3 linked regions of the Homo sapiens genome follow. The protein of the gene in region 1 purifies or fractionates together with the protein of each later gene. This does not show direct contact. Each region holds a gene or a part of one and is shown on either strand. Other genes may lie near its edges.

Region 1 (7,105 bases):
CAACATGGTGAAACCCTATCTCTACTAAAAATACAAAAATTAGCTGAAGTGGCGGGTGCCTGTAATTCCAGCTACTGGGGAGGCTGAGGCACGAGAATCACTTGAACCCAGGAGGCGGAGGTTACAGTGAGCCGAGATCGCACCACTGCACTCCAGCCTGGGTGACAGAGTGAGACTCCATCTCAAAACAAAACAAACAAAAAAACCTGACTTTGAGCAGGTTATAGCTCTTCTGTGGGCCTTAGTTTCCTCATCTGTAAAATGAGTACAATTTTTAGCAGCTGTGTTTCCTGCCCCATGGGGTTATGTTGAGGATCAATTCAGACAACATATAAAAAGTCTAAGATTTAAAAAAATGATAAAATACCATGTATTTGAGGGTTTGACAAGGACAAAATAGGCACTCAATAAATACTGATGGCTGTTCCCCTAAGAACATGGGGTTCCCAACCAAAAGCTACCCTTCCTCCCCCCTACCTTTGTCACAGAACTTGCCTGCCCAGCCACTGTGGCAGATGCACTGCCATGGCTGGTGGCAGGTACCGTGCTGGCAGCCAGGCATCCTCACACAGCGCTCACAGTGCAGCCCCTCCCAGCCCGGGTCACACCTGACGGGGAGAAGCACAGGGTCAGGGCTCTGGGTCATGGATGTGAAGAAATGGAGGAGACAGAACCAGAGCTTCTAGAAACCAAGAGGACATATGACAGCCCCTAAGGGAAAGCAGACCTGTCCCAGGTAGGTGTAGGACTGTGCAGGGTCATAGGACACATATACGGAATCAGACCATCAGACACCAGCACTCAAACCCTGGTTCTGTACTTTAACCTGAGCCTCAGTTTTCTCACCTGTAAATTGGGGATACACCTTGCAGGGTTGAGTAGAGGAAGAAATAAGATGTCTGTAAATGCCTCCAGTACCCCTCCTGGCATGTCTGAGGTGCTCACAAACATTTAAAGAAGAATGACCTTGAAAGGCCATCAGGGCCGGGGCGTGGTTGCTCACGCCTGTAATCCCAGCACTTTGGGAGGTCGAGGCAGGTGGATCACTTGAGGTCAGGAGTTCAAGACCAGCCTGGCCAACTGGGTGAAACCCCGTCTCTACAAAAAATACAAAAAATTACCCGGGCATGGTGGTGTGCATCTGTAATCCATTATTGAGGAGGCTGAGGCAGGGGAACTTGAACACAAGAGGCAGAGGCTGCAGTGAGCTGAGATCGCGCCACTGCACTCCAGCCTTGGCAACAAAGCGAGACTCTGTCTCAAAAACAAAAAATAAAAATAAAAACAAAAAAGGTCATCAGGACTATCCTCCCACCATGATTCCAGGGCAAACACTTGACCCATATTTTAAAAGCCCTCCAGGGGTGAAGAGTCTCAAAGACCCCCAGCCAATTGAACTACCTGCCTCATCAACTCATTTCCTTATGTCCACTTTCCTCCTGCTACAGAATTTGCCCAATCTCCCAGTGAGTCAACTACTCAAACTCATCAAGAAAGATCCTCTTTCATTGTAAGTGTTTCTCCCCAGCAACTCTCCCTGCAGCATTTCTTTTCCAGGCTAAACCATTTCTCTTTCCCTTTTTCCTTTATCTTTCCATTTCCTCATGGCACCCAATCCCCAAGCTCTCTCAAGCTTTAGGTCTCTCTCCCTGTCAGGAGTTCAGACAATCCCTGGATCAGACTTGGGAGATTAAAGAAGTGGGGAGATAAAAACTAGAAGAAGCAAGAGAGGTGAGGTAAAGGGGAAAGGGGGACTGGCCAGTCAGCCATAGGAGTGATGAGGCATGAAGAGTAGAGTCTGAAGCCCCTAGACACTGTTGTGCACGTGAAGGGCTTAGAAATGGGTACCAAAGGGTTTGGGGGCACGTGCTCAGGACAGGTACCTGCAGGAGCCGTCAGGTGCACAGCAGCCGTGGGCCAGGTCACAGTGGGAGCTGCAGTCATCGGCTGCAAGAGATTGATGTGGGAGGGGTGAGTCTGAGTCAGGGCACAGCTCGCTGGGATGCGGGACTCAGGAGAGGATTGGGGTTCCAGTAACTGAGCGGACTCAACCCTAGGGCAGGACATAACACAGAAACTCATCCCATTCCAAAAAGGCAACCTCGGTCTTGCTTGCCCCGCGGGTCGGAGCGACTGCAGTGCCGCCTCCGGCCGGCAGAGGTCAACGTGCAAGCGAGGACGGCTGGACAGGGCCGCGACTGGAGCCCAGCGGGCGCGCTCACCTCGGACAGGCTGACCGGGAGCCCCCAGAATGCACAACAGGCACACGAGATGCAGGCAGCGGCAGCCGCTGGGCATGGTCAGCGCCGGCCCCAGGAGGGACGGACGGATGGACGGCCGGACGCGTGGACACCTGTGGGACGGCACCGGTTGGGAGGCGGCCGGACGCGGAGATAGCGGCACGGATACGGGTTCCAAGTGACAGGAGCCGACGAGGGAGAGGGGCGCCGGGACAGAAGAAGGGGATGGGGGTAGCGGGAGGATGGGGGCAGGGAAGGGTTGAGCAGGCGAAGAGAGCGAGGAGAGCGAAGACAGGAACCCGGGAGCGGGGTCTGCAAGGAGGGGAAAGATGGGCATCGCGGAGCGAGGCCAGGCGCGGGAATGGCTGGGGTTGGGATCGTAGTCAGGACGGAGGGGTCCGCGGGATGGGGACAGCGCCGAGAGGCGGCCTCGAGCACGGAGGGGACGCGGGGGCCGGAGGGAAGGACGGTTCCCGGCAGCGAGCAGTCTCCGCCCCACAGCTCCGACAGCCCCCCCCCCCGCCACCACCACTCTCTCCCACGTCCCCTTTCTATCTCCGCCGCGCTGGGTTCGGCGGCGGCGCGGGGCCTGGAATCCCCACCGCGCCCTGTCCCCGCAGTCCTCACCTCCGGCGGGGAGGTGGCGCGCCCCGGGGCGCAGAGAGAGGCCGGATCCGACGGGCGCCGCCGAGGGGCCGTGAGGGAGCGCGGGGCCGCCCCTAGCTGGCCGCGGGGCCGGGCGCCGAAGCGGCTGCCATGCGAGCCGAGCGCTCGGGAATCTGGGGCTCCAGGCGACCCCGAGCGGCGGCAGCGGCTGCTCCTCGCGCGCGCTCAGGCCCCCTGCCAGGGGCGGAGCCCGCCCCCACCCCCATCCCCCCCCCCGCGACGCACGGCGCACACCTAGCACCCGGCGCGCCCCGGGGCCCCGGCCCTCCGCGGCTACCCAACGCCCCGAACCCAGCTTCCTTCCAAGAGAGGAGGAAATCTTAGGAGTCTCAATGGGAGCAAACTATTAAGCCAAAGGAGCGCAACCCCGTTATTCTCTCATCTCCCATGCCCACTTTCCCGACCAGCGCTCCGCGGCCCACGCCCCAGCCCTGCCTTCGCTTGTCCGCCGCTCATCACGCTTCTCATATAGATCTATGCACACGCAGGCAATCGCTCCCCGCCCTCCGCCTGTCACCAGCCCACGCCTCCCCGCTTGTAAAGCCTTCATCACCTGCTTCATCTGTGTGCTCCTCTGCTCCTCCTCGCCCTCCGCTTCTTCCTGTCCACGTTGCCGTCTCCAGCCTTCCAAGATCAACCTATCCCTATATAAATATCAACCCGATCCACCCAACCACACCCCGGCCCTACCCCCACCACCCTTCCCTCCCTCAAGTCTCAGCCCTTCCACCCCATTCCTTTTTGTGACTGCCTCTGAGAATCCTTTCTGGACTGGGAATGCCCCTGACTCTGTAAATGTGCACACAAAACCCCCTCCACCGCCAAGTCTTCTCCTGTACCCCATCACGTTCGTCCTTGGCCTCAGGCTAAACCTCAACTGCCCAAACCTGGAGCTCAGATTCAGAGAGTAACGGAGGGGGAGTGGGGGAAAGCTGCCCTCCAGGCCTCTTTGCCCCCTTCTGGCTAATGGCTCAGAGACACATTTCAAGACAAGGACCCAGCCAAGCTCGGTGGGCTCACGCCTATAATTCCAGCACTTTGGGAGGCTGAGGCGGGCGGATCACCTGAGGTCAGGAGTTCGAGACCAGCCTGGCCAACATGGTGAAACCCGTCTCTATTAAAAATACAGAAATTAGCCAGGCGTGGTGGTGCGCGCCTGTAATCCCAGCTACTCGGAAGGCTGAGGCAGGAAAATCGCTTGAAAACCCGGGAGGCAGACGTTGCAGTTAGCCAAGATCGCGCCACTGCACTCCAGCTTGGGGGACAGAGCAAAACTCCGACCCCCGCCCCCCCCCAAAAAAAGACAAGGACCCAGAACATAATTTCTAGTTTGTGCAGGACAACAGGGCAGAGGTCAGGAACGCTAGCGCCCATCTCTAGTCCTTCAGATTGAGATTTCACCATCTTTAAATTCAAAACATCGGAAGGAGCAGTCGCTAGTCGGGGCAGAGCAGCTTCCCACCTTCACACAGCCACCTCCACAGGCACAGAGCCCCAGGGCTCATTTTTCCTGCAGTCTCCATTGGATATAACACTTACACCCACTCAGCTCCCTAGCTGGCCTCCTCTCAGCTGTGATCGCCTCTTCCCTGAAGAGCTCTCTGAATTTGAGTAATGACATGGCTGTACCATTCATTTTGTTTAAACACATTTTTTTTTTTGGTGAAAAATTGCAAACAACCTATAATTCAAAAATTACTGTAGGCAAATAAATTATGGCACATCAACACTATGTGACTGTTAAAAATACTTTTTTTTTTTTTTGACGTCTAAAGATGTCCAAAAAAGCTAAGAATATGTAAAGTGCGGTGGGGGGAAGCCGGAAACAAAGAAGAACGTACTTTGACATTGGCAGTGCTTTTCTCTGGATGATCGAATTATAGAGGTTTTTTTTTTTTTCTTATTAATACTTTTCAGCATTAACACTTTTTTTTTTTTTTTTTTTTTTTTTTTTGAGACGGAGTCTCGCTTTGTGGCCCAAGCTGGAGTGCAGTGGCGCTATCTCGGCTCTCTGCAAGCTCCGCCTCCCAGGTTCACGCCATTCTCCTGCCTCAACGTCCCAAGTAGCTGGGACTACAGGCGCCCACCACCCCGCCCGGCTAATTTTTTTTTGTATTTTTAGTAAAGACGGGGTTTCACCATGGTAGCCAGGATGGTCTTGATTTCCTGACCTCGTGATCCGCCCGCCTCGACCTCCCAAAGTGCTGGGATTACAGGCGTGAGCCACCGCGCCCGCCCCTTTTTTTTTTTTTTTAAACAATGAACATCTATAACTTGTTTTTTGTTGTTGTTTGTTTGTTTTTCCTTGAGATTATCACTCTGTCGCCCAGGCTGGAGTGCAGTAGTGCAACCTCAGCTCAGTACAACCTCGTCTCAGCCTCCAGTATAGCTGGAATTGCAGGCACAGCGCCACCACGCCCAGCTAATTTTTTTTTCTCGAGACTTTCAGTGCTTTTCTCTGTCAGATATCATTATCTGACATTATATTAAATATTTATTGTTTATTGACCATCTCCCCACTACAAAGCAAACTCCAGAGGTCTGGGATGTTTTCTTGCTCATCACAGCATCCCCAGTGTCTAAAACAATGCCTGGCATAGTAGGTATTCAATAAATTTTTTTAAAATTCTGTTTGTTTAATTAACTCTTTTTTTTTTTTTTTTTTTTTGAGACAGGGTCTCGCTCTGTCACCCAGGCTGAAGTGCAATGGCTCCATCTTGGCTCACTGCAACCTCCGCCTCCCGGGTTCAAGCAATTCTTCTGCCTCAGCCTCCCGAGTAGCTGGGATTACAGGCGCGCCCCCACCAAGCCAGGCTAATTTTTGTATTTGTAGTGGAGACAGGGTTTCGCCATGTTGGCCAGGCTGGTTTACAACTCCTGACCTCAGGTCATCTGCCCGCTTGGCCTCCCAAAGTGCTGGGATCACAGGCGTGAGCCACTGCCCTCGGCCTGCCCAGTTAATTTTTGCATTTTCAGTAGAGACGGGGTTTCGCCATGTTGGCCCGGCTAGTCTCGAAGTGACCCCAAGTGGTCCACCGGCCTTGGCCTCCCAAAGTGCTAGGGTTACAGGCATGAGTCACCGTGCCCAGCCTAACATTTTTTTAGAATAAAGTAAAAAGAAAAAGGCCAGGTGCGGTGGCTCACGCCTGTAATCCCAACACTTTGGGAGGCTGAGGTGAGAGGATCATGAGGTCAGGAGATCGAGACCATCCTGGCTAACACGGTGAAGCCCCGTCTCTACTAAAAATACAAAAAATTAGCTGGGTGTGGTGGCAGGCGCCTGTAGTCCCAGCTACTCGGGAGGCTGAGGCAGGAGAATGGCATGAACCCAGGGGGCGGAGCTTGCAGTGAGCCGAGATAGCACCACTGCACTCCAGCCTGGGTGACAGAGCGAGACTCCGTCTCAAAAAAAAAAAAAAAAAGAAAGCAAACTGGCTGGGCGCGGTGGCTCACGCCTGTAAATCCAGCACTTTGGGAGGCCAAGGCAGGCAGATCACCTGAGGTCAGGAGTTCGAGACCAGCCTCACCACCATGGAGAAAACCTGTCTCTACTAAAAATACAAAATTAGCCGGGCGTGGTGGCACCTGCCTTTAATCCCAGCTACTTGAGAGGCTGAGGCAGGAGAATCGCTTGCACCTGGGAGGCAGAGGTTGCGGTGAGCCTAGATCATGCCACTGCACTCTAGCCTGGGCAACAAGAGCAAGACTCCATCTCAAAGAAAAGGAAAGGAAAAAAACCACCCACAATCCTACTAGCTTGAGAAAACCACAATTATTGTTGTTTTGATTCCTTTTTTCCATTCAGATATTTTTACAGAGGTATAATCATAATGTACCTACAGTATTGTATCCTGCTTTTTTTTACTCCATGTCATATATTGATAGTTCTCAAAAGCATTTTTTATGGCTATGTGATATTCCATTAAATAGATATACTATATTTACTTTACTTAGCCCTAGTTATTGGCTGCTTAGGTTGTTTACTTTTTTTGTCATTATAAATTCATTCAACAAATATTGAGTAGTCATATATTACCATTAGATACCAGAGCCACTGAGGATACAGCTCCCAGATAATATTTATTAGTGCCACACATTTTTATGAAGGTAGGTTTTTTCCCCATGTTTTAGGCTCCTTCCTTATGATCAAGTCTGAATTGATGAGTGACTGAGTCAAAGAAGTCATGAAAAATAAATTC
Region 2 (6,852 bases), on another chromosome or scaffold:
ATACAAAAAGGTTCACAGTAGCACTAGTTTAAACCTGGGAACTACTCAATGACCATTAATAGAAGAATGAATTTAAAAATGATCATATATTCACATGGAATACTATGCCAAAATAAAAATTCTCATGTTAACAATATGGACGAATCTCACAAATAAAGCCAGAGAGGAAAAAAAAAAGTCAGAAATAAGAGAGTATATAAATGGAAATGCACAGTGTCTAAACAATAAAAATAGACAAAATTAATCTAGGTTATTATGTTTAAATAGTGATCATTTTGGGGTAGGGAGTAGTGATGGAAAGGACCAGGAGGGAGCTTCTGGTGTGCTGGTGATGTTGTTTCTTTTTTCATTTTTTATTTTTTTGGGGCAGAGTCTGGCTCTGTCATCCAGGCTGGAGTACAGCGGTGCGATCATGGCTCACTGCAGCCTTGACCTACCCAGGCTCAAGTGATTCTCCCACCTCAGCCTCCCGAGTAGCTGGGACTATAGGCATGTGCCACCACGCCCAAATAATTTTTGTCTTTTTTGTAGAGATAGGGTTTCACCATGTTGTCCAGGCTAATCTCAAACTCCTGGGTTCAAGGGATCCATCTGCCTCAGCCTCCCAAAGTGCTGAGATTACAGGTGTGAGCCACCATGCCCCATCTGTCCCGTTTCTTGATCTGGGTGCTGGTTACATGGGTGTGCTCAACATGTGAAAATATAACCATCCACACACTTGTGATCTGTGCCCTGTCCTTATGTAAATTATACTGCAATAAAAATTGTGTATATCAAAGAGCAAACAAACAGCAAACTGGAAATTTTTCTGCAAGTATGACAAAGGCTTAGTAATATATGAAGAACTCACGCAAGTCAATTTTTTTAAAGCTAGCATCTAATAAGAAAATGAGCAACAAATATGAAGAGAAATGTTCAAAGAAATAAAAATAGCTAATAAATGTATAAATGCATAAAATGTAAATTAAAACAATGGAATGTTATTTTTGCCTATCAAATTAGCAAAGATTAAAGGAAACTGTTAAGGCTGTTGTTGAGGATTTGGTGAAACCAATACTCTCTTATTCTTAATGGAAACCGGAATTGGTATAACCTTTCTGCGTAAGTCTTAAATGTTCATATTCTTTCACCCACTAGTTCTACTTCTAAAAATTATTCTGAGGAAAATCAGAGTTGTAGTTAAAAATAGGCTTATATCACTGTTGATTACAATGGTATTTTTTTAAAAAAAGGTTATATTATGATACACGTGAGGGGATATTATAATATTAATGTTTTCAGAGAATGATGAATGGGAAAAGATTCACGATAAAGTCAAGTGAAAAATATATACAAAATTCTACGTGGTATACCTTTTGTTTTAAAAAATATCACACACACATTGTGTCTTAATATAGAGGCTAAAAAATTACACACACATAAACACACATTTACATAGAAATAAAGTCTATAAGAACACATACCGTACTGTTAATAGTTACCATCTTTGGGTGGTGGGATAATGGATGATTTTAACTTGGGGGCTTATTTTCTACAATAAAATGTTCCTTGAGCATATATTACTATTATATTCAGAAATCAAAAATAATGGGTAAAAAAAATACACCCATCAGTTACCCTTACTCTAGAAAATATTTCTCTCTCCTTCAGCTACCACATTCAATCTATAAACATTGCCTCGATTTTAACTTACAAGTGTCTGTCCAAGCCATTATTCCATTACGTCTCTCATTTCATCTCAGGCCCTTGTCTTCCCTAATGAACGCCTCATATCTAGACTCTTCACTTCGGTAAAATGGCCACATTTTCCACTGCTTCTTCATTGCAGCCACATCAAGCCACTTTACATAGCCACCCTCCACACCCCGCCCCCTAAAAATGCACACCAGGTACTTTCACACTTCCCAAGCTTGGCATAATCAGTTCTCTTTCCCTGTAATACATTTTCTCCTGCCGGTTTTTCTAATCCAATTCATAGTTAAAGATTCACCTCGGATATCGCGTACTGGGTGTAGCCTCTGGGAGGCCGCAAGAACAGAAATTAATCCTTCAATGACAGTTTGTACATATTTCAACATTTAGCATTCTGTCCTGTCTGTGCCTCGCTCTCTCGCTGTATGGCATGGGCCACTTCATTTTTAAATTTTCTTAAAATCTAGTTGGATAAATGAAAGTAAAGCGTATACATGCAATACACATACGTACAGGGGTGCGAGTTTTGACCTGTGTCTGATGGAAAAAAATGGCATCAAAAACACTCGCCCGATTTTTTTCATTCAAGATGGCAGAGAACGTCTTAAAATAGTCCCACACAAAAGCACTCACATCTAGAGCCCCGAGTCAGAAGAACTGGCTACACCTAGCGCAACAGCAAAGGACAAAAGAATCGAATCTAGATGCTGAGATGCCCTGGCCCTAACTACCCACAGTAGGTCCCACAAATAGACTTTAAACCGTGTTAGAAAACGGGCACCTGCTGCCTTCATTCCGAGGGCCACGCCTTGACGGTGAACAGTGACCTGAAGCACTCTGGATACTGACCCAAAAAAATCGCGGATGGAAAAGGAGGAGGCTAAGTTGTGACTATCTAAAAGGCACGATTCGGCCCCGCCCCAGCCGGGCGCAGTCCCCCCCGCCGCACATCCATTCCCAGGAAGGAAGAGACACCGCTCCAGCCCAGAGCCTGGCAACCGGGCACCGTCTGGGAATTCTGGGCGGGCCCGAGATAGAGGCCGGCCACGGCCAGGGCGCCTCTGGCTACACCTGTCAGGCGACGACGGACTCTAGGCCCTGAAATCGCTGGGGTTCGGTGGTCGAGGCCAGCTGGAGCGCGTCACCCGATCCCTCGCCCCGGGAACGCCTTGCTTCCTCGATTTCCGTCTCGTCCTTCTCAAACAAAGGCAATCCACACCCACCGCCATTTTCCTCTTACCTCAAAAACCACCTCTTCGTCAAACTCCGGTGTCATCCTTCTCCGCCATGCCACCCGCCTCAGCACGATGGGAAATGAAGGCGGGAGTACAGGCGGCACGGAGCTCCAGCTCCTGCCCGTCCCGTGGGTCCAGAAAACTACAATTCCCAATATGCCTCGCCGCTCACGCCCCCTTTTCGAGCCCGCTTATTGGAGAAGAGAGTGAGCGTGTAAGCGAGAGAGGCGGGAGCGAGCTGAAGCTCGAGCCCTCCGATTGGAGGAGGCTAGGGCTTTTGTCTGCCTTTTACGGCCGCGACTAGCAGGGGGCGCCCGGAGCACTGCTGATTTTTGGAGCCCGAGAAGGGCACGCGCCAGCGGAGCCGAAGAGAGCACTGCTCGTGCCCGCGCCTGGCTGTCAGCCTGCCGCTCTGCGGGGCGGTGCTAGTGCTCGCCCGCCCGACCCCGGCGGCTCGCGCCCGGGAGCGCCGCAGGGTCGCTAGAGTCGGCCGCGTCCTTTGTGTGGCGCTCAGGCTGCGCCGCGGGGCGGCGGGACGGAATGTGGGCGCTGCGGGGGCTTTTCTCTCCTACCCGAACTGTGGGAACAATGGACTGAAAGGGGAAGATGGATTGAGGGGCCGAGCGGGGAAGCGAGCTGCACCGGGGAATCATGACTTCTGCAGCCGGTAAGTGACGGCGCTCGCGCTGCCGCGGGAAAGTTTGTGGCGAGCGCTGCTAGGCTTGGGCTCGCGAGCAACTTTCTTCGCCGGGGTGGGCGAGTTGTGTGCCCCGTACCTTTGCCGAGCACCTCGGCAAGCGCGGAGCTAATGGGATTCGCTGCCGGCTTTCTCGTCTTTTCCTGCCCAGAGGGGCTGTTTGGAAACCCGGGATTTCTCGGGATCTCCCTTCCAAGGGGGACTGTGCTGGGGGCTCTGCACCAGGTGAAATGCGATGTGTGAAGGGCGTTCGCTCATCTCTCCAGCAGTGCGAGGACTTCGCCTTTGCATGTGAAAATAGTGTAGATTCCCAAGTTAATAGATCAGTTATTATAGGTAAAGGCAGTGTTCTCAGCGTGTTCAATTTGGCCACTAAGTGAGTCGCTTTCAACCTTGTATCTGCTGGTAAACCTTTTACCCATTTTAAAGAGGCGTAGACATTGTCATGTCCTGGTGGTTTTACCTCTGTTACCTGAGAAGCAGAGGAGTTGAGATTGTTGAGGTTTTTTTTTTTTTTTTTTTTTTGCTTGTCTGCACCCAATTACAATTATTTTGTTTGTTTCTACCTGATTAGGGTAAACAAAGCTTTATTTTCTGTCTGCCTCCCATAGTTCTTTCCCCTTCATCCAAATGACAAAGCCTCTATCTTTGTGTGGATTTTCAGCAATTCTAGACGTTGTGTTTCTGAACATTCTTAAGGAACAATTTCTGTTTTACAAAATAATTACCAAAGTGGTGTTACGTTCACTTCGTAAGTACATAGGTTAATTTTTAAACCAGAACTTATGTATTAAGTAGAGTGTTATGGGTTATTTTACGTTTTTGTCCACGTTGAAACTTTCATTAGAAATTTTATAGTGAAATAGTTTAAAGCTTCTTCTCAAGGTTACTTCCAGAATCAGCACTTAAGTATCAGATTAAATTTTCATTGCTTTTCTTGGCATTTGTTTAAAATTCTTGCAACTTGAAACTGTCCAACAGCACTCAAATGTTCTGATTTGTATTATTTCTAAAGCCTAGATATATTGTAGTGTTGCATTGCTCCCTGTGATCAGATTACAACAAACGAAACAAGAAGTTAGCCAATAGGAAAAGAAAGCAAGAAGTGGGTGTTGTGTGGGTCTTTCCTTTTTGATGTTATATGCACTTATATGAGATATCTTTATAAACTCTCTTTTCTTTGCCAAAGGGAGGCTTTATACTTACATAAGGTAAATTATTTTCATCCTACATTTCTGTGCCTTACCTTCGTTCAAGAAATTGATTTAAATTAAAAGTGGTTGGAAATTTTAAAATCCTTCCAGCCAGTTTTAGCTCTTTCCTTTTTGGAGGTGTCAAATGTATTTAAAATAACCGTGTCTTATATGTATCAGTTTTCAATTCCAGTCTTAACAGTTTATAAGGAACAGGCACAGAAGCATGTAATTTCACATTTATGTAAACCCAATTTCTAGGGCCCAGACTGGAAGTTCATGATTCTTGCATTTGAATTATCCTAAAATAATGCAAGCTATTTTTGTATTTTATCAACTTTACAATTAAAGAAATCCACAGAAATTTTTGTGGTGTTTAAAGTGGGACACTTCCTGTGTCTAGCCGAGTTGGTTGGTTTTTAGCATTGCTGGCTGAGAAGCATCAACTACTTTTTTGCTCACCCATCTGTTGGATTTATCATAATTCTTTCTGGTGTCTAGATGGGGAATATGGAAGAGAACTGGGGTTTTATTTCTACCCATTCTTATATGTATACATAGTTCTTACAAGCTGATTATGGTGCTTTTTGGGAACAATAGTCAAATTCATTGAAACGTTTAGGAAAGTTACTTGAAGTTAAGGGAGGGGATTTTTGCTTTTGAATCTAATCTGTGGTATTTGGAAGGGTTGGTTTAATTTAAGAAAATAAAAGGAATGTTGTAGAACATCTAGGTTATATGTATCCAGCAGAAAAGCTTGCTTTGTTTTTCTACATCTATAAAATAATCTGCCCTTAGTGGAGATTTCAGAATTATTTTAAGCTGTATATGAAAAAGGAGAGGCTGGGCGCAGTGGCTCAAGCCTGTAATTCCATCACTTTGGGAGGCCAAGGCGGGTGGATCACTTGAGGTCAGGAGTTTGAGACCAGCCTGGCCAACATGGCAAAACCCTGTCTCTACTAAAAATACAAAAATTAGCCAGGTGTGGTGGGGTGCGCCTGTAGTCCCAGCTATTCGGGAGGCTGATATGAAAATTGCTTGAGCCAGCGAGGCGGAGGTTGTGGTGAGCCGAGATCGAGCCACTGCACTCTAGCCTGGGTGACAGAGCAAGACTCCATCTCAAAAAAAAAAAAAAAAAAAGAAAAAAGGAGAGAGAATTATAGGTATATATAGGTATATATTTTGTGTCCTTTTGAACATGTACAGGTCACTGTCTTCATTGTCTGTGCTTTGCGTTTTGGCTGGTCCAGTAGCCAGAGAGTGTACACGTGAACCACAGCCATCTGTGTGTAACAGATGACGAGTATGTTTGTAATAGTTAGTAAAATGGTACTAGTGCTTTACTTTCTTACCTTATATTTCCCTGGAGCCAAACAGCTGTGTAAATAAAAGATTTGCTGCTTTGCTCTAAGAAGCTTTGGGTCTGACTGTTGATGCAGTATTAAGATCCAAAGGTGCTAGATTTATTGCCAAATGTCATGCACTTATTTCACATTGGAGTAGACCATAATATAATGGCTTATTATTTTTTGAGTTGTGTTTCTTCCAAAATAGAGCCATGAAAAAAAAATAATGAAGGATTTTGGATATTGCTCTACCAGTGACTTAGTTGAACACTTGTTCCTATTAATAATTAAGGAATTTTTCAATAATCGTATTGAAATTGATTCCTGCTAACTTTTCAAAATATTATTCTACATTAAAATGGATGTACATTTTTGAATGTGATTATTTTTAAAGAAGAAATTTTCTGTTATGGAGACATATTAAAGAGTATGTGTATGTGGCAGCTGTGATTATTCCCAGGCCCTGTTGTTAGCACTGGGATACATCAGTGAATGAGACAAAGTGCCTGCCCTTCTGGAGCTTGTGTCTTATGCTGAACACAGACAAAGGTGAACTGAAAAAACATCAACGCAGGAGACAGAGGCCACAGTACATGAGGTTCTTCTGAAATGAGTGTCTCAGAAGTTATCATCTCAGATTCCTATGGGCTTTAGAGGCCTGTTCAACTCCCCCATTTATAAGGAAGGAA
Region 3 (7,659 bases), on another chromosome or scaffold:
AGAATCCCTCTAAAACCGGAGTTACACATTACTTTTTTGATTTTCCAGTGTACAGAGTAGAAAGTAAGTTTTCAATGAAGGAATAAATACATTTGAAGACAGATAAAACATCTTTTCTCAAACTGTTGAAATCAGTGGCATTCACTCAACAATAAAGACATATAAGCATGTGTTATGTGACACATACTATATTAGGTACTAAAATGAAAAGTTATTAAAATGGAAGACAATGACAAGAACAATTCCATTAGTTTTCTGTTGTCATTCAAGGTTGTATCTATATGGTTTTTAATATCCAGATTAAAGTTTTAGAAATTAATTAACAGCTTCGATTTTCAAGCCCATTTAGACAAGTGCTATCACTTAAGTGAAATCTTAGTTAACTAAGTTTTTCAGGATTCATTTGGATGACAAAGCATTCAAATGATGCACCCAAAACTAAATATGTGAGTATTTAGAAATATATTCCACTGAAAGCTTTTGCTTTTGTTCTAAATGTTTGGCATCTAGTAGGTAGTCTATAAGAGTCTTTAAAATCAGTGTGTTCATATCTACATGTTTGGGGGAAATAAAGCAAACAGCAACATGAAGGTGCTCCCAAGATTCTGTTCTGAAAGTTGTCCACCAAAGGGCACCAAAGTAAAACCAGCAGATGGCTCTGAACACACAGAGAGAGAAGGGGGGAGAGAGAATGGAGGGAAGAGGGACAGAGAGAGGGAGAGAGAAATGAGGGAGAGAGGGGGAGAGAGAGAGAGAGACAGAGAGAGAGGAAGAGAGAAAGGAGGGAGAAGGAGGGAAAGAGGGGGAAAGAGGGATAGAGAGGGAGGGAGAGAGGGAAAAATAAAACAAGAGAAGACAGAGGCTAGGTGAAATAGAGAAGTTGCCAGAGGACTTCTGGGAAAAAACATTTGAAAAGGAAGGACTGAAAAGAGAAGAAATGGGCACAACGGGGACTCCGGGTCTGGCCATAACAGCCAGGAGAAACAAGGGCTTAAGCCAGGAGGTCTGAAAAGAGAACAGAAGGTAGACCACCTAGAATGGGGACAAGGCACTTCCACTCTGCAAAGGTGAGTGTGCTTGCAGTGCAAAGCAAGAAACGTGAACTTTAAAATTCTTCAGGCACATGTGTTCAAAAGGCAAAGATACATGAGAATGCAAGATGAAAAACTCCAGCGCAAGATCAGGCTTTTTAAACTGCCACAGCTCCCCTGTCTCCCCAGCTAGCTTCTATTCGCCTTCCCAGGCTCCTAAGCCCAGTGACAGGAGAGACTCTGGAATGATCAGAGATTCTGGAATGAAAAGAGCTATGCCCACTGCTTAGGAGGCCAAGGATTCTGCAAACTGATCCCCGCAGATACCACAGCGCTTTACTCTGGTCTCCAAGGCCATGGCACACCCTAAAAGATTAAAATGCCTTAAGGTAAATGACCATTCCCAGATGAAGGCACAGAATGTAAACAAAGTGTGGGCCGAGGGAAGAAACTTGAAAAATCACAATAAAGTGGCCTCCCAGAGCAGGCAACTAGCAACTTTGTAGGAAAAGGAGAGGGAAGAAGTCCTGTGTTCTGCACTGAGAGATCATTTCATGTCACGCTTCAGTGCAATTAAAATAAAAAAGGATTTACTAATTACAAAGCAATCCTAACAAGGTACATAATACAGAATATTCACATCTTATACATCTCCTAGAGAAAGATTACAAACACAGAATGTTTCACCTTCCGGAGGAGATAATTATTAACTTTTAAAGACTAGCTCAGGCAAGAATGAAAAAGTATCAAGTCAAGGCCACATACATTCTAATTTTATAACCCAGGCGGCCCTGGATGGGATTCAGAGAGCTCTTATTTGAATAAGATCTGACGATATCCTCTCATTAAAAGGATTAGTGTTTCTGCACAAACGTCTAGATAAATCTTATTACTGGTCCAAAATTAGTCACCTAAAGGCTTTAGCCAGTTTTGCACAAATATTTACAACTCTGAAGAGGCTGAGTACTTTTTCTCTTGAAATCCAGGCACTATATCCACTTCAAAAGCCACATATGATTGTGGCTTTTGCTGAGCATATTTCTTTTCGACGAGTTGAAGATGACAATCTCTCAATACCTTACTCCATAGACTGGATGTAAGCGTCAAAAGAGGATGAAAAGGTACTTTCTGAACGGACAGGTACTCTGGGGTGATGGGTTGGGAGATTCTCTAAGCCTCAAGAACAGCGTTTCATGAAACGGGCTTATAAAATACAGCCCATCTCAAACGGATTTTAAAAGGCACCCAGTTACTTTAAAATACCCAATACAAACACCAAGACGGGCTATTTTACCAGGTCCCCTGCAGAATGTGAAGGGGCTTCCAGCGCTCCAAGCCGGCTTTCTAATTTAAGCCAAGAACCGAAAAGGAGCGAAGGCGGCTTCGGGGACCCCGGCAGCGTGCAGGGCCAGGAGGTTCAGCCTGCCCACCCGGAGAGGGGTGCGCCGAGCTCCTCTGGAAATAGTGACTGAAGGGTCCCCGCGAAGTCGCCGTGCCAGCCCCTCTCCCAGTTCCAGCGGTCCCCGAAGTCCCCGGGCAGAGCCGGCTGCACAGGGACCGGACGAGGCGAGGCGCATTCCGGGGCGCAGCCCCGAGGACGAAGGTCCACGGCTTCAGCCCCAGCCCACGGCCCCGACTCCCTGACGAAGACTCGCTGGAGCGCGGCCTCAGGGCAGCTGCGCGCAGCTGGACTCGTCCCCGGGAGCCCTCGACCCTCTAGTTCCCCGCCGGCCCCAGGGCGCCCTCGCCCCGCTCCTTCCCCGCCGGCCCCAGCGTCCGGGCTGCCCCTCGCCCGCGGCCTCTCGGCGGGGCTGGAGACCTAGCAACTTACTGGGGCTGGGTTGGGGTCGCGCCAAGAAGGCGGCGGTGGGCTGCCGGCTGCAGCGCGTCGGGGGCCCGCGGCTGGGGGACGCTGGAGCAGCGGCCGCCGCCTCGCTGGTCCCGCGAAGAGGAGCGCCCGCCGGCCGCGCTGCAGAAGGAGGGCTGGGCACGTGGGCGCCCCTCTGTGTAGCCACCCGGGGCGGGGGCGGGGCGCGGGGCCGGGCGGCACCGCCTCCTCCGCGCTCCCGGAACGCGACCCCGAGCCCGCCTCCCGCCGGGCCCCGGCCGCGCTGACCAATCCCCGGGGTGGGCGGTGTGCGGCCGCTGCTCAGCGGGGTTTGCCTGGAGCCGAGCACACGTGGGCGGGCGCTAGCCCCGGGCTAGGCCGGTGGGCGCGGGCCGGGGAAGAGAGGCTGCGCGCGAGGATAAACTTCGTGCTCTCCTGGGAGGACCAAACCTCAAGGGCATTTCCGAATCTTCTAAGCAGAGTTCTAAGTGGGGTTTTGGTCCCCCCGTTTACTTTCCATTCTACAAAGATTTTGGAAATAAGAAAATAATAATAAAATATAATAATAGCAATGATAAATGGAAGCCCAGGTGGATGTGCTTTGTCAAATGCAAACTAAACGTTGATAAATAATGTGCAGTTGCTATTTTGGAAGACTCCAGTGGTATGAATACGTAGTCACGATTGTTTGGGGGTGGGTTTATAGGAAATGACATTATTTCCAGGGGAGCAAGAGCAGAAGTTACACAATCAGGGTTTCTCCTACTGCGCTATTGTTTACTTTAGGAGTCTCTGATAAGATTAAGTCACAATGTGAAAGCCTGTTAATTTTCATCCAAAACGAAGCAAAACACGCACTGAATTGAACAATAAGTGTGTGTCAGTGTGTGTGTGTATATGTGTGTGTGGTTTGTCTTTAGAGACAGGGTCTCACTCTGTCGCCCAGGCTGGAGGGCAGTGACACAATCGTGGCTCACTGCAGCCTCGACCTCCTGGGCTCAAGCTATCCTCCCGCCTCAGCCTCCCAAAGTGCTGACAACTACAGGCTTGAGCCACCAGGCTGAGAATTACAGGCTTGAGCCACCATGCCCGGCCTATTACTATTTTTGTTTGACAGAAAGGTCCACTTTACTTTGCATAGTATTGGAGTAAACGTCCCTTTAACCCACCTACTAGTAATAACTTTGGCAAAGTGCCAGATTTGTATTGCTGCCTCACAGTACATATACAATTTTAATGTGATATTCTAAATCATTCTTCCCTTCAAGACATATATCCCCAAGATCATCTAATAAACGGTGTGGGGCTTCATTCCAGAAGATAGCACACACACAAAATCTCAATGTATCTCAGGAAGCCATCCATGGATTTCATCAAAAAGTGAAAGTGTAGGCTGGGGGTGGTGGCTCACGCCTGTAATCCCAGCACTTTGGGACGCCGAGGCGCGCCGATCACCTGAGGTCAGGAGTTCGAGACCAGTCTGGCCAACAGGGTGAAACTCCGTCTCTACTAAAAATACAAAAATTAGCCGGGCGCGGCGGCGGGCGCCTGTAACCCCAGCTACTCGGGAGGTTGAGGCAGGAGAATCGCTTGAGCCCAGGAGGCGGAGGTTGCAGTGAGCCGAGATAGTGCCACTACAGTCCAGCCTGGGCGACAGAGTGAGATTCCGTCTCAAAAACAAAAGCAAACGAACAAAAAAACTGAAAGTTTAAACAGCACTATGATTACGAAGATATTATCTGATAGACCAAATGTCTTAAGTAATAGAGACTGTCAAAGTAAACTTATTTTTACAGTCAAAAAAAGATTCCTTATGCAAATTATCATTAATAACATTAAGGGAAATGATGCGTGTGGACTTTTAACACCAGATTCCTCCTCAATCCCACGGCTAGGAGGCGTTGTTCAAGGGAGCGATGACTCAGATACTTTGTCTAATTTTTAAGGGTGAGTAATCTGGTCTAACATTTTTCACCTGGTTTAAAAAAAATAGAGATTCCTGGGAGTCGCGGTGGCTCAGGGCGGTTGCCCTGGCACTCGAGGAGGCGAGGCTACACGTTCGAGGCCAACCTGGTCAACATTGATTAAAATAAAGAAAGAAAAAATAAAAAAATAGAGATTCCTATTTTTAAACTTAAGCAATTATTTCCCCACATATTTTTACTTAAAGGCTCTGTGTTTAAATCTGTTTAATTTGTGATTAAGTTACAACACAATGATTTGGGATAAACAAATTTATCTGGAATTTGGAAACTGCCAATTTTGTCAGAATACCGATCTTTGAATTTATCCAATCTGCCCGCCGGCGCACTTCCTGAAGCAAGAACGTGCTGTGTTCATGTGTGTGAATAAGAACAACAACTTCATCTCTAAGCAAAAAAAGAGCAAATTCTTTCAAACAACTTTCTAACAAGATTGCTGAATATCTTTACACACTAGTTCTTGACTTAACATATTCCATTTCGTGTTTGAAATTATTGATTAACCCTGAATCCTGCCTCATAACTTTGGTTATTTCTCACCTTTAAAAATGTGTTTAGATGAGGAAAGAATAGGATGCCCACGGATTTAGTATGAGTCTCTTAAGACAGACTATGAGACAAGAGAAAATAGAATCGAATTTTTAGAAATGAAATATTTGAAACAGGTTAAGCTCTTTTGACTTCATCTTCATTTGCATTTTCTCTTGCTGCCCGGGGTTGAATTAGCATCTTTTTCCCAGTTGAGTAAAATTTGCACCCACCTTCTATTTCACGCTCCCTGGTTTATTGCCATCACTTTTCACTTTCAGCCGTCAAGTTTCCTCCTTAGGAATGAAGCAGAAAATCCAACTTAGTCATTTTCAGCAGAGAGAGTAGCCTAGGTTGTCATCTTCCAAAGATTTCACAAACATTCTTGCATGTCTGAACTCTTAAGGGTTTATGAAATTGCGGGGAATTTTAAGGGACTTTTGTAGCTGAATAAATTCCACACCCTGTACTCCCACACTTGCCAAATACAACCTAAAGTAAATCTCATGTCCACAAATAAGGGATTTACTTCAACTAGCAAGACTGAAGGAATGGATTCTTACTAGTTCTAATTTGTGACTCTATTATTCCCCAAACTATTTTAGCGAAGACAAGCTAAAATCCTCCAATTTTTTTCAGATGGTTGGATACTGGATACTAATGCTTGTGCTGTCACTGAATCAACTCAAAAGGGAAAAAGAGTTGGACCAGAGTCAGAGCACTAGCTATTTGTTTGTTTTTTGAGACGGAGTTTCCCTCTGTCACCAGGCTGGAGTGCAAGGGCACGATCTCAGATCACAGCAACCTCTGCCTCCCGGATTCAAGCGATTCTCCTGCCTCAGCCTCCGGAGTAGCTGAGATTACAGGCGCTCACCACCACGCCTGGCTAATTTTTTTGTATTTTCAGTAGAGACGGGGTTTTACCACGTTGCCCAGGCTGGTCTCAAACTCCTGACGTCAGGTGATCCCGCCCACCTCGACCTCCCAAAGTGCTGGGATTAAAGGCGTGAGCCACCGCCCCGACCCAGAGCACTAGTTTTAAGAGCTTTCAGGCCACCGCTGTTCTCCACTCGCCTTTCAAAAATGTGTAAAAACCTAGAGGTGACTTTCCACTGGACAGAGTCCATATCTGCCCATCCCTTAAGGCAAGCAACAAAATATTGAAAAAATGGTTGGAAAAAAAATACAACAAGTCCATATAAATGACAAGTCGTCTTTCAAATTCATCTTCTTCTACTTGTCTTTCAACTAAGACCAAATCACCGTTTTGCAATGATTTTCATTCTACATTGCTCTTCCTACAAATTTCCCTGCCTCCTGTCACTTGGTGTCTTTCTGGGGTTTCTTTACATTGGCCATTCATCAGGAATGGCCCTGAGCTCCACCCGCCCCGTGCTAGTCTCTAATTCCTTCTGCCAGGATTCCTGCTGGGCCTCTTATCTGCTGGAAAAAGTCAGTTTTCTTAATCTAAACATCAGTTAGCCTGTTGCTCTAAGGACTGAAAACCAGGGATTTAGGAGGGAGCTCAGATAATCTAAATCCTCTCTTTTCTTTAACCTTGATGAGGGTCCTAATTGCTCCAGAAATCTCTTCCTAATCATATGCAATGGACCTTTCGCAGTTCTCTTGTGCCTCAAACTCGCTCCTGCTTTCTTTCTTTCTCGAAACTATCTCCTCCTTGGCTTCCACGGTCTCTTAGTTTTCCTCCTACTATCCTGAATAACCTTTTGTCTTGCTTGCTAACTAAGGCACTCTTAAGATTAAATTATTGAATCATTCTTAACTCCATCAATCTTCACAATCTAGGTTGTTATGCTTTTTTTTTTTTTTTTTTTTTTGAGACGGAGTCTCATTCTGTCACCCAGGCTGGAGTGCAGTGGTGCACTCTCAACTCACTGCAATCTCTGCCTCCTGGGTTCAAGCGATTCTCCTGTCTCAGCCTCCCGAATAGCTGGTATTACAGGCACGGGCCACCACGTCCGGCTAATTTTTTGTATTTTTAGTACAGACAGGGTTTCACCGTGTTAGCCAGGATGGTCTCGATCTCCTGACCTCGTGATCTGCCCGCCTCGGCCTCCCAAAGTGCTGGGATTACAGGCGTGAGCCTCCATACCCGGCTGAGAGAGTAATTTTTACCTCCTTTTCTACAAAAGAAAAAAATTAGAAACCACTCATCATGCTGGGGCAGAGAACGACAGAGAACGTGCCACTGCACTCCAGCCTGGGCGAAAGAGAGAGACTCCGCCTCTAAAAAAAAAAAAAGGAGGGGGTAAGGGGGTAATCCCCTTTT

The links.
Region 2: the proteins of DLK2 (region 1) and VEZT purify together in Homo sapiens (affinity purification with mass spectrometry; 2 studies listed by BioGRID and IntAct, with this or other methods). This does not show direct contact.
Region 3: the proteins of DLK2 (region 1) and SLC7A2 purify together in Homo sapiens (affinity purification with mass spectrometry; 2 studies listed by BioGRID and IntAct, with this or other methods). This does not show direct contact.

Annotation. Positions count from the first base shown.
Region 1 is NC_000006.12:43,452,528-43,459,632, forward strand, and holds the start of DLK2 (protein delta homolog 2 isoform a precursor), read right to left. Parts: upstream 3,022-7,105; 5' UTR 2,868-3,021; exon of another isoform or gene 2,578-2,867; coding exon of another isoform or gene 2,299-2,577; coding exon 2,223-2,298; intron 2,054-2,222; exon of another isoform or gene 1,948-2,053; coding exon 1,884-1,947; exon of another isoform or gene 647-1,883; coding exon of another isoform or gene 609-646; coding exon 478-608; intron 1-477. UniProt on the Homo sapiens protein: Regulates adipogenesis.
Region 2 is NC_000012.12:95,213,967-95,220,818, reverse strand, and holds the start of VEZT (vezatin), read right to left. Parts: upstream 3,013-6,852; 5' UTR 2,969-3,012; coding exon 2,933-2,968; exon of another isoform or gene 2,474-2,932; intron 1-2,473. Other genes in the region: FGD6 (FYVE, RhoGEF and PH domain-containing protein 6), read left to right, coding at 3,579-3,594. UniProt on the Homo sapiens protein: Plays a pivotal role in the establishment of adherens junctions and their maintenance in adult life.
Region 3 is NC_000008.11:17,492,441-17,500,099, reverse strand, and holds the start of SLC7A2 (cationic amino acid transporter 2), read right to left. Parts: upstream 3,013-7,659; 5' UTR 2,863-3,012; intron 1-2,862. UniProt on the Homo sapiens protein: Functions as a permease involved in the transport of the cationic amino acids (L-arginine, L-lysine, L-ornithine and L-homoarginine); the affinity for its substrates differs between isoforms created by alternative splicing.